Linked DNA regions of Homo sapiens. The protein of the gene in region 1 interacts with the protein of each later gene in a pairwise test. Each region holds a gene or a part of one and is shown on either strand. Other genes may lie near its edges. The genes, in order: RABEPK, TMEM98 and POR.

The links.
Region 2: the proteins of RABEPK (region 1) and TMEM98 interact in a two-hybrid assay, tested with the Homo sapiens proteins (one large-scale study listed by BioGRID and IntAct).
Region 3: the proteins of RABEPK (region 1) and POR interact in a two-hybrid assay, tested with the Homo sapiens proteins (one large-scale study listed by BioGRID and IntAct).

Annotation. Positions count from the first base shown.
Region 1 is NC_000009.12:125,217,479-125,221,128, reverse strand, and holds part of RABEPK (rab9 effector protein with kelch motifs), read right to left. Parts: intron 591-3,650; coding exon 429-590; intron 1-428. UniProt on the Homo sapiens protein: Rab9 effector required for endosome to trans-Golgi network (TGN) transport.
Region 2 is NC_000017.11:32,938,108-32,941,588, forward strand, and holds part of TMEM98 (transmembrane protein 98), read left to right. Parts: intron 1-1,369; coding exon 1,370-1,429; intron 1,430-2,678; coding exon 2,679-2,886; 3' UTR 2,887-3,481. UniProt on the Homo sapiens protein: Functions as a negative regulator of MYRF in oligodendrocyte differentiation and myelination. Interacts with the C-terminal of MYRF inhibiting MYRF self-cleavage and N-fragment nuclear translocation.
Region 3 is NC_000007.14:75,953,045-75,956,694, reverse strand, and holds part of POR (NADPH--cytochrome P450 reductase), read right to left. Parts: intron 2,707-3,650; 5' UTR 2,694-2,706; coding exon 2,515-2,693; intron 1-2,514. UniProt on the Homo sapiens protein: This enzyme is required for electron transfer from NADP to cytochrome P450 in microsomes. It can also provide electron transfer to heme oxygenase and cytochrome B5.

The DNA.
Region 1 (3,650 bases):
AGTGCAGTGGCCCAATCTTGGCTCACTGAAACTTCCTCCTCCTGGGTTTAAGCGATTCTCCTGCCTCAGCCTCCTGAGTAACTGGGATTACAGGTGCATACCATCATGCCCGGATAATTTTTGTGTTTTTAGTAGAGAAAAGGTATGTTGGCCAGGCTGTTCTCGAACTCCTGACCTTAAGCGGTCCACCTGCCTCAGCCTTCCAAAGCTCTGGGATTACAGGTGTGAGCCACCATGCCAGGCCTCACTATCCCTTTTTAAATGCCAATTTTGCTGTGGGAAAAAGATATCAGCTAAGAGATATAACAAAGAAGTCTAGAAGTGAGACACTTAGTCAGGCTTTCCTTTTCTAACTTCTGCTTCCTATATTAGGTAATGTGTAAACTGGGATGGCCCTGACCAGCCCCAAGGTGCCCACCAGTCCATACTTGCGTCAAACACATGCAGCTTCGTGTCCTGCACGGGCTGGGCACCTCTCTCTCCGCCCCCAAAGACATATAGCTGGTTTCCAATGGCTGCCGATGATGTGTGGAATGTTCTTGGGGATGGTGGGGGGCTGGTCACTTCTGGCGTGGTCCACGTCCTGGTTTCTGGGCCAGAGAGAATGCAGGCACTTAAAATATCCAGGTAGAGGGGCTTCTGACCTTGACTCTGGGGCTGAGTGAAGTCAGTTTCCAAACTCCAATCCCCAGGGGGGCCAGCATAGTTTTGGGCAGGGATCTCATACTCACAAACATCAAGGAAGAATGAAGATGATACTTAGGATTTGCCAAGACAGTCCAAAATCCCCAAGATTTAAAAGCTGTAAGCACAAGAATGGAGTCAGGCTGGGTGCAGTGTGGCTCATGCCTGTAATCCCAGCACTTTGGGAGGCCAAGGCGGGCGGATCACTTGAGGTCAGGAGTTCGAAACCAGCCTGGCCAACATGGGGTAAAACCCCATCTCTACTAAAAATCTGAAAAATTAGCCGGGTATGGTGGTGGGGACCTGTAATCCCAGCTCCTCAGGAGGTTGAGGCAGGAGAATCGCTTGAACCCAGGAGGTGAAGGTTGCAGTGAGCTGAGATTGCACCACTGCACTCCAGCCTGGGTGACAGAGCAAGGCTCCATATTAAAAAAAAAGAAGAAAAAAAAGAGGTCAATTTGTTTTGGAGGCCTTCAAATATCCTCTCTGAACCCTCTTCTACTTTGCTCACTATCGCTCCCCCTAACATCTGCTAACATTCATTCCCACTAGATGCCAGAGTCCAGGTGTGCCAGATTTCCCAGAAAATGTGGCCAATAAAAGAAAGTAGGCAGGCCATGTGCAGCAGCTAACACCTGTAACCTCAGCAGTTTGGGAAATCGAGGTAGGAGGATTGCTTGAGCCCAGGAGTTTGTGACCAGACTGGGAAACAAAGCAATATCCTGTCTCTACAAAAAATCAGCCAGGGGTGCAGTGGCTCACGCTTGTAATCCCAGCACTTTGGGAGACCAAGGTGGGTGGATCACTTGAGGGTAGGAGTTCTAGACCAGCCTGGCCAACATGGTGAAATCCCATCTCTACTAAAAATAAATAAATAAATAAATAAAGCCAGGTGTCGTGGTGGGGACCTATAATCCCAGCTACTCAGGAGGCTGAGACAGGAGAATCACTTGAACCAGGAGGCGGAGGATGCAGTGAGCTGAGATCATGCCACTGCACTCCAGCCTGGTTGACAAAGCGAGACTTCATCTTAAAAAATAATAATAATAAAATAAAATAAATTAAAAATTAAAAAAAATTAGGCTGAGCACAGTGGCTGTAAGGCCTGTAACCCTAGCACTTTGGGAAGCCAAGGCAGGAGGATTGCTTGAGCCCAGGAGTTTGAGGCTGCAATGAACTATGATCGTGCCATTGCACTCTAGCCTGGGTAAAAGAGTAAGACCATATCTTGAAAAAAAAAAAAAAGAAAGAAAGAAATGAAAAAAAAAAAAAGACAATACTATTACATTTCAGTAGCAGTAATAACAGTCCCTACTAAACAGTAAATGCTAAACAAATATTAATTTCCGCATTTTACAGGTAAGAGAATTGAAGTAGGGATGGATTAAGTAACTTTTTAAAAGAGACATGGCTAGCCAGGCTCGGTGGCTCATGCCTGTAATCCCAACACTTTAGCAGGCTGGGGCAGGTGGATTGCTTGAGCCCAGGAGTTTGAGACCAGCCTGGGCAACATGGCAAAACCCTGTCTCTACAAAAAAATACAAAAAAAAATTAGTCGGGTGTGGTGGCGTATGCCTATAGTCCCAGCTACCTGAGAAGCTTAGGTGGGAGGATATACTGAGCCTGCAGCGGTTGAGGTTGCAGTGAGTCAAGATCACACCACTGCAACTCCAGCCTGGGTTACAGAATAAGGCAAAGAAAGAGAGAGAGAAAGAGAGAGAGAGAGAGACAGATAAAGTGACATGCCTAAGAAATGGCTGAGTTGGAATTTAAACTCTTTCAGTAACACCAAGATCTTTCTAATTCCCACTCCTCTGACTGGAGAATAAAATTTCACCACCTAGATAGATGTATAGAAGCTTATTTCTTTTAAGGATGAACCTGGGTTTTATAGAAGCAGATGCATTAATTGAGCACCCTCAATGGGCAGCATCATTGCCCTGGGCACTGCCATCCCTGGTGTCTTCACTCAAGCTTGGGAAGTGAGCGGAAGTATCTCTACTTTTAGATGAGGAAACTGAAGCTCTGCACATTTAAATCCTTTCCTGCAGGTTATAGCATATGTGCGTAGCAGAGCAGGAGTTTGAACTCAGTTCTTTTTTTTTTTTTTTTTTTTTTTTTTTGAGACGGAGTCTCGCTGTGGCTCCCAGCCCAGAGTGCAGTGGCGCGATCTCGGCTCACTTTGCAAGCTCCGCCTCCCGGGTTCACGCCATTCTCCTGCTTCAGCCTCCCGAGCAGCTGGGACTACAGGCATCCGCCACCATGCCCGGCTAATTTTTTGTATTTTTTTTTTTTTTAGTAGAGACGGAGTTTCACCGTGTTAGCCAGGATGGTCTCGAGCTCCTGACCTCCTGATCTGCCCGCCTCGGCCTCCCAAAGTGCTGAGATTACAGGCGTGAGCTACCGCGCCGGGCCTGAACTCAGTTCTATCAGAGTCCCACACTTGCTCTACCATAACACACCAAGAAATTCTGTCTTTTGTAAAAGGTCTACATCCAATATATAAAATGCTACAGGAAACATCTGTAATATGTGTGGGACTCAAATGGGGACCTGGAGACTGAAAAAGTCTCAGCCTATATCCAAAGCAAAATGTAGCTGTCTCTATAGTTACAGATGTTGGAGAGCTTTTGGATCTTAGAGGGAGCTAGAAAGGTATACATGTCACCTCCAGGCCCAGAAGACCCTAGGGCTGTATTCCTGCCAACTCAAACACCAGCACAAAGAATCACAAAGGAGTCCTGAGCATTTGAGGGACTTGCCTTGGTAACAAATGCAACTAAGTACATATTTCATATTTCTTGGGCATGATGTCAAATTATATTTTCTAGGAGAGAAAAGGGATATGATAGAAAATCACCCTCTTTAATATAAAAATTAGCTGGGCATGGTGGCATGTGCCTGTAATCCCAGCTACTCGAGAGGCTGAGGCTGGAGAATCATTTGAACCCAAGAGGTGGAGGATG
Region 2 (3,481 bases), on another chromosome or scaffold:
ACCTGTTCTGGTGCTCACAGGCCCATCCTAAAGAGTACCTTGGACTACTTCTAGAATGCTCCGTGCCATAATTCAGCCAGGGTCCTGCTTTGTCCTTTTGCCCTCACACTTCTTTCTCCTTCTGGCCATGTTTTGTCCCCATTGTTTTTCCTGCTCCATTTATCCCACACAGTGTGTTGATGGCCTGTGAGTCTCGAGGAGGTGGCTTCAGCTCCAGGGCACTAGAGAAAGGAGCTGGCTGAGATAGGCGCGGAGGGTGACTGTGTCTCTGCATGTCCTCACCGGCTCCACAGCCGTGAATAAGAGTGTTTGAGGCCATCTTTTTTTCAAGTGCTTTTAGAAATCAAACAATACATCTTTATTTTTTCTTCCTATCGAGTGTTCATGAGCAAAGATTTGGAGCAAAACCTTGTGCCACGCAAATCAGAATGAATTGTAGTTCTGAACTTGATTTAAAAAAATTAACCACAGGGTAGAAGAAATCCAGTAGAGCAGTGTGAAGCCAAATGAAACTCATGGCCTTCTTTTTCGGTGTCTTACATACCTTTAGCTTTGTATTTTTTTTTCCTGAATACAAGAGTAATTAATGCTTATAAAAATGTGAAATACTGCAGACATACATGACCTGGAAAGTCTACTCCCTCCCAATTGTAGGAAAAAACCACTATTAAGTGGTGAGTGTTCCTCCAGATCCTTCCCAACCCCACATTTCAGAGCTTTTGTTTATCTATTTTTATGCAAATGACAGATTGAGCTTTACATATTATTTGGCAATTTGCCTTTTTAATATAGTAGTAATCTTGAACATCATTCCATATGTATGACTGTATTTTAAAAAACCATTGGAACTGAAACAAAACTAGAAAACAAAGTAGTCTCTGCAAAGACTGAACCTGAAGTCTTTGTGCCTAAGTGTCTGTCTGAGAATGCAGAAGCAATTGGAGAAAGAACCATTAAAGACCAGGTCTGGAATACCAAAAAAGAAGAACTGGAATAAAGATAGAAAGGAAGGAAGGGGCCAGGCGTGTGGCTCACGTGCCTGTAATCCCAGCACTATGGAAGGCTGAGGTGGGTGGATCACCTGAGGTCAGGAGTTCAAGGCTAGCCTGGCCAACATGGTGAAACCCCGTCTCTACTAAAAATACAAAAATTAGCTGGGCATGGTGGCGCGTGCCTGTAATCCCAGCTACTTGGGAAGCTGAGGCAGGAGAATCACTTGAGCCTGGGAGGTGGATGTTGCAGTGAGCTGAGATAGCACCACTGCACTCCAGCCTGGGTGACAGAGCGAGACTCTGTCTCAGGAAAAAAAAAAAAAGGAGAAAAGGAGATCAGGAAAGTGAAGTACTGAACACCTTTTGCCTCCGGTCAGGGTGGATGATGTTGTGAAGTCGATGTACCCTCCGTTGGACCCCAAACTCCTGGACGCACGGTGAGACCAGGGGTGGGTGCATGTTCGGTTTTTCATGCAGAGGTCCACAACCGTTTTATCAGATCTGTGAGGCTGGCTGACTGGCTTGTGTAGGGAGGGTGGCTTTGCAGCCTCCTTAGGCTGCCCGGGCCATGCGTGCCATTTACTTCAGTGAGCGGCGCCTGACTGGGTGATAGAGGCCAGTCCTCTCCTGAAACCCAGGAGAAGAAAGAGGCAGTCTTAGATTTTAAATTGTTATGATTAGACTTCCGGCCATGTTACATCCTAACTGTGCCTTCCCTTCTACCTTTTCCCCTTTCCCCCTCTGATTTTTGTACCCCAGAAGCAGACATGCCTTAGCTGTGAGTGCCACCCAGTTGGGCGGTGGGGCAGTGGTTCCCAGAGCAGTGAGAATGGAGGTGACAGGTCAGCCACAGCTGTGCTCACCTGCCACCAGACATGCGCATACACAGAGTGTACTTAGCCCTATGAAATTGTTATGTTCCTATACCAGATGCAACCCATTTAAGAAATATAGATTCTTTCGTGCCTTGGATTTATATGACTGTGTCATACACATGTAACAGTTGCCAGATCGGCAGTGGGTCACAGCGCTTCAGCTTTGGTTTCTCTGCCCCACTCCTACTGCTGCCGAGCTTTGTCCGTGGGTTAATAATCTGTAATGTATTCTCAAATGCATCATGGTACTAACCATATAAAAGGTATTCTACAGTGAATCTTTCAGCACTGAAAAATCTACTCCTCACTTTGGTTTTCAGTTACATTTTTTTTTTTGAGTTGGATAAACCAGCCCTGGGCCTTACCAATTTGTAATCAATAAGGAATGTTTAAGTGAGGGTGTGTCTGTCCTATGTTTCAGTGGGCAGCGGTTGGGGAATATGCTCATCTGATTGACTATATCTGAACTGTTTCACAAAGCGCTCTTTGGGGAGATGTTAATAGGTGTGCTGCAGAAAATGGCTTCCACAGTCTTAAATAAGCTTGTGAGAGACAGCCTGTTATATTCTCCTTGGAGCTTTACCAGGTACATCTCAGAAGGCTCTGAGGCAGGCTTCAGTTAACCATGTTTAACCCAGCCATCTCCAAATTTATTTGAGCATGGAGCCAACTTTAAATTGCATACCTACCAACATCCTAGGGAAGGGTGTGCAGTTTGGGGAATACTAGTCAAAAAGTCTATCTATTTGGGCTTTTGTGCAAAGTCCCTCATTTCCTAGGAAACCTGACCCTATTTTCTTTTTTTCCCTAGGACGACTGCCCTGCTCCTGTCTGTCAGTCACCTGGTGCTGGTGACAAGGAATGCCTGCCATCTGACGGGAGGCCTGGACTGGATTGACCAGTCTCTGTCGGCTGCTGAGGAGCATTTGGAAGTCCTTCGAGAAGCAGCCCTAGCTTCTGAGCCAGATAAAGGCCTCCCAGGCCCTGAAGGCTTCCTGCAGGAGCAGTCTGCAATTTAGTGCCTACAGGCCAGCAGCTAGCCATGAAGGCCCCTGCCGCCATCCCTGGATGGCTCAGCTTAGCCTTCTACTTTTTCCTATAGAGTTAGTTGTTCTCCACGGCTGGAGAGTTCAGCTGTGTGTGCATAGTAAAGCAGGAGATCCCCGTCAGTTTATGCCTCTTTTGCAGTTGCAAACTGTGGCTGGTGAGTGGCAGTCTAATACTACAGTTAGGGGAGATGCCATTCACTCTCTGCAAGAGGAGTATTGAAAACTGGTGGACTGTCAGCTTTATTTAGCTCACCTAGTGTTTTCAAGAAAATTGAGCCACCGTCTAAGAAATCAAGAGGTTTCACATTAAAATTAGAATTTCTGGCCTCTCTCGATCGGTCAGAATGTGTGGCAATTCTGATCTGCATTTTCAGAAGAGGACAATCAATTGAAACTAAGTAGGGGTTTCTTCTTTTGGCAAGACTTGTACTCTCTCACCTGGCCTGTTTCATTTATTTGTATTATCTGCCTGGTCCCTGAGGCGTCTGGGTCTCTCCTCTCCCTTGCAGGTTTGGGTTTGAAGCTGAGGAACTACAAAGTTGATGATTTCTTTTTTATCTTTATG
Region 3 (3,650 bases), on another chromosome or scaffold:
AAATGCTGGCTCTGTGGTCCTGATCGTGCCCGTCATAGTGCCTGGCACGAAATACGATCAACGCAAACACTACACAGCTCCTATCCCTCAGGGGCAGTGCTAGGTGAGTTTATAGACTCTTCCTCATTTAAGACAAAAGCCCCACAAGATTGGGAATACTGCCTCCATTTAGCAGGTGAGGAAACTGAGGCAGAATGAGGTTAAGGTCTCGCCCAGGGTTCACTCACCACTAGAGCGTAAGCTTGATGAAGACAGCATTCATCTATTTTCTTCACTGCTGCAGCCACACACCTTAGCATAGTGTCTGGGACACTGTAGGTAGGGCCTCAGGAAATGTTTGCTCAGTGAGTCAATGATGGAGATAAGATTGAACCCAGTTTTGTTTTGTTTTGTTTTGTTTTTGAGACGGACTCTGTCTCCCAGGCTGGAATGCAGTGGCGCATTCTTGGCTCACTGCAACCTCTGCCTCCTGGGTTCAAGCGATTCTTCTGCCTCAGCTTCCCTAGTAGCTGAAATTACAGGCATGCACCACCACGCCCAGCTAGTTTTTGTATTTTCGGTAGAGACGGGGTTTCGCCATGTTGGCCAGGCTGGTCTCGAACTCCTGACCTCAAGTGATTTCTCCCGCCTCGGCCTCCCAAAGTGGTGGAATTACAGACGTGAGCCGCTGTGCCTGGCCCTGAACCCAGTTTTTAAAAATGTAAAACTAATTCCCTGTCCATGGTATAAGAACTGTGTTGTGTGAATATCTGCTTTACGGTGTGAAGGCTGTAAGTGTTCTGGCGGGGAAGGCTGATACCCAGATTGGAATAGGGAATCGGGATTTGATGTGAGCGGCATGCTTCACCATGCCCAGCCTTGGAGAATGACTTTTCTGTGTGGCTTGTTCCTGCCAAGACAGCCACAGCCTTGGACTGGAACTGACATGACAGATGGCCCCCACTGGTGTCAGCACCAGCCCAGGGTGGCCCTGGGGTGCAAGCTAAGGCTGCAGCTGGGACTGGGTCCCCTGAAGACAGACAGAATGAAAGGGGTTCTGGTCTGAGAATGGCTCCCAATCCTGCCCCTGAGACCTGCCCCTTGCCAAATCCAGGGAGTCCCTGAAGGCAGCAGGCCCGTGCCCCTGGAGTTCCCTCGGCTCAGACCTGACCTGGCAGGTCCCCACTCAAACCTGGCTGCGGGCCCCTGGAGTCTGAGACTGGTGTTAAACACAGCCAAGCGTAACCGCAGGAAGTAATTCTGGCCGCAGGACCCTAAAATCTGGAGAATGACTTTTCCGTGTGGCTTATGGAAATCAATCTTGGAGAGACAGGGATGCAGTCACTTAGGCAGACCTTCGGTATCATTTTTTTCTGTCTACATACCATCTATACTATTATTTCCTTAACGTTTTTCTTTTAACTAATCCATCTTTTTCACTTATTCTTAAAAGGAAGCTTCATGAAAAGTTTAAAAGAGCAACAAAATAAGGCCTGTCCAAAGATTTTGTGCTCATTAGCACATAGCCTTCCAGGTGGCTACAGCCTTAAAAAGACTTTAAAATGCCAATTCTAGGCTGGGTACAGTGGCTCACGCCTGTAATCCCGACACTCTGGGAGACCAAGGTGTGCGGATTGCTTGAGTCCAGGTGTTCGAGACCAGCCCGGGACATGGCAAATCCCTGTCTCTATAAAAAAATACAAAAATTGACTGGGCGCAACGGCTCACACCTGTAATCCCAGCACTTTGGGAGGCCGAGGTGGGCGGATCACTTGAGGTCAGGAGTTTGAGACCAGCCTGGCCAACATGGTGAGACCCTGTCTCTACTAAAAATACAAAAAATAGCCAGGCGTGGTGGCGGGCACCTGTAATCCAAGCTACTCAGGAGGCTGAGGCAGAAGAATTGCTTGAGCCTGGGAGGCAGAGGTTGCAGTGAGCCGAGATCGCACCGCTGTACTCCAGACTGGTTGAAAGAACAAGATTCTGCTTCAAAAAAAAAAAAAAAAAAATTAGCTGGGCATAGTGGTGCACACCTTTAGTCCCAGCTACTCGGGAGGCTGAGGTGGGAAGACTGCCTGAGCCTGGGAGGTGGAGATTACAGTGAACCTTGATCGTGCCACCGCCATTGCACTCCAGCCTGGGCAATACAGTGAGACCATGTCTCCAAATAAATAAATAAATAAATAAATGGAAAAAAGGGTTCCAGCTCTAGCGCTGCTATTGCTGGCTAATGACCCTGGCAGGCCCGTTAACATTCTTGAGCCCCCGGTTCTTAATCTGTAAACTGGTGTCATTTTCGCAGTGCTTCCTGTGAAGGTCATATAAACAGCAGATAGAAAAGGGCCTTATAAACCCCACATAAGAGATGATTAAGGGAGAGCTCAAGCACAATCTAGCAAGAAGGCAAAACCCAAGAGTCACCCCAAAATGCTACAAGGAGCCTTGCTTCTTTCAGCCTGAGGCCCGCATGCAGGACACTGCTTGGAGTGGTGACAGAAGAGGGACAGAGAGAGGAGGCTGAGAGGCGGCACTTACAATGTCTGAATTTTGGTGAACTCGGGGACTTCTTCTTTTTTCTTTCTGAAGAGGAACCAGTAGGTTAGGAGACCCACGATGAGCGAAAACAGAATCATGTCCGTCATGCTGAAAAGAGATACTTCTTCGGCCACCGCCTCGGACACGGTGGAGCTGGTGTCCACGTGGGAGTCTCCCATGTTGATCATGAAACTGTTAGGAGACAGAAACAGCAGATGTCAGCAGAGGGTAGCAGGGTGCCCCTGAGGCTGGCTGGGGTGCCCACCTAAATGCTGGGCCTTGCCCCTGGGGCTGCAGGAAATGGTCACTGCACGGGGTAGGAGAAGGGGCTCACTCAGCCAGGTTCCTGCCAAGACAGCCACAGTCTTGGACTGGGGCTGACATAACAGACAGCCCCCAGTGGTGTCAGCACCAGCCCAGGGTGGTCCTGGGGTGCAAGCTAAGGCAGCAGCTGGGACTGGGTCCCTGGAAGACAGAGAAAATGACAGCCACTGACTCTCAGTGTGCTGGAACATCCTCTAATCCCACAAGGACACCGCACGGGGGGCAGGCGGGAGGAAGTGCACGCAAGAGTGGACCATTTCGCAGCAAACCCTTTCCCCAGCTGTGTGGCTGGCGGGGGTTGCCCTAAACCCTGCATGTTCCAAGTCTCCAGGCCTGGCCCTTGAGTGGCTCCTGATATTCACGAGCCTTGGACTATCCTGACTGGCAAGAGTGTCTCTGTATTCCTAAAACCTTGGGCTATGAAGGTAGTTCCTGTTAACAATGAGATTTATGGTGAATGCCTGCTTTCCTATGCCTGGGAGTCTTTTTTTTTTTTTTTTAAGAGACAAAGTCTGGTCCCTCCCCCTCCCCCTCCCCCTCCCTCTTTCCACGGTCTCCCTCTGATGCCCAGCCGAAGCTGGACTGTACTGCTGCCATCTCGGCTCACTGCAACCTCCCTGCCTGATTCTCCTGCCTCAGCCTGCCGAGTGCCTGCGATTGCAGGCGCGCGCCGCCACGCCTGACTGGTTCTCGTATTTTTTTGGTGGAAACGGGGTTTCGCTGTGTTGGCCGGGCTGGTCTCCAGCTCCTAACCGCGAGTGATCCTCCAGCCTCGGCCTCCCGAGGTGCCGGGATTGCAGACGGAGTCTCGT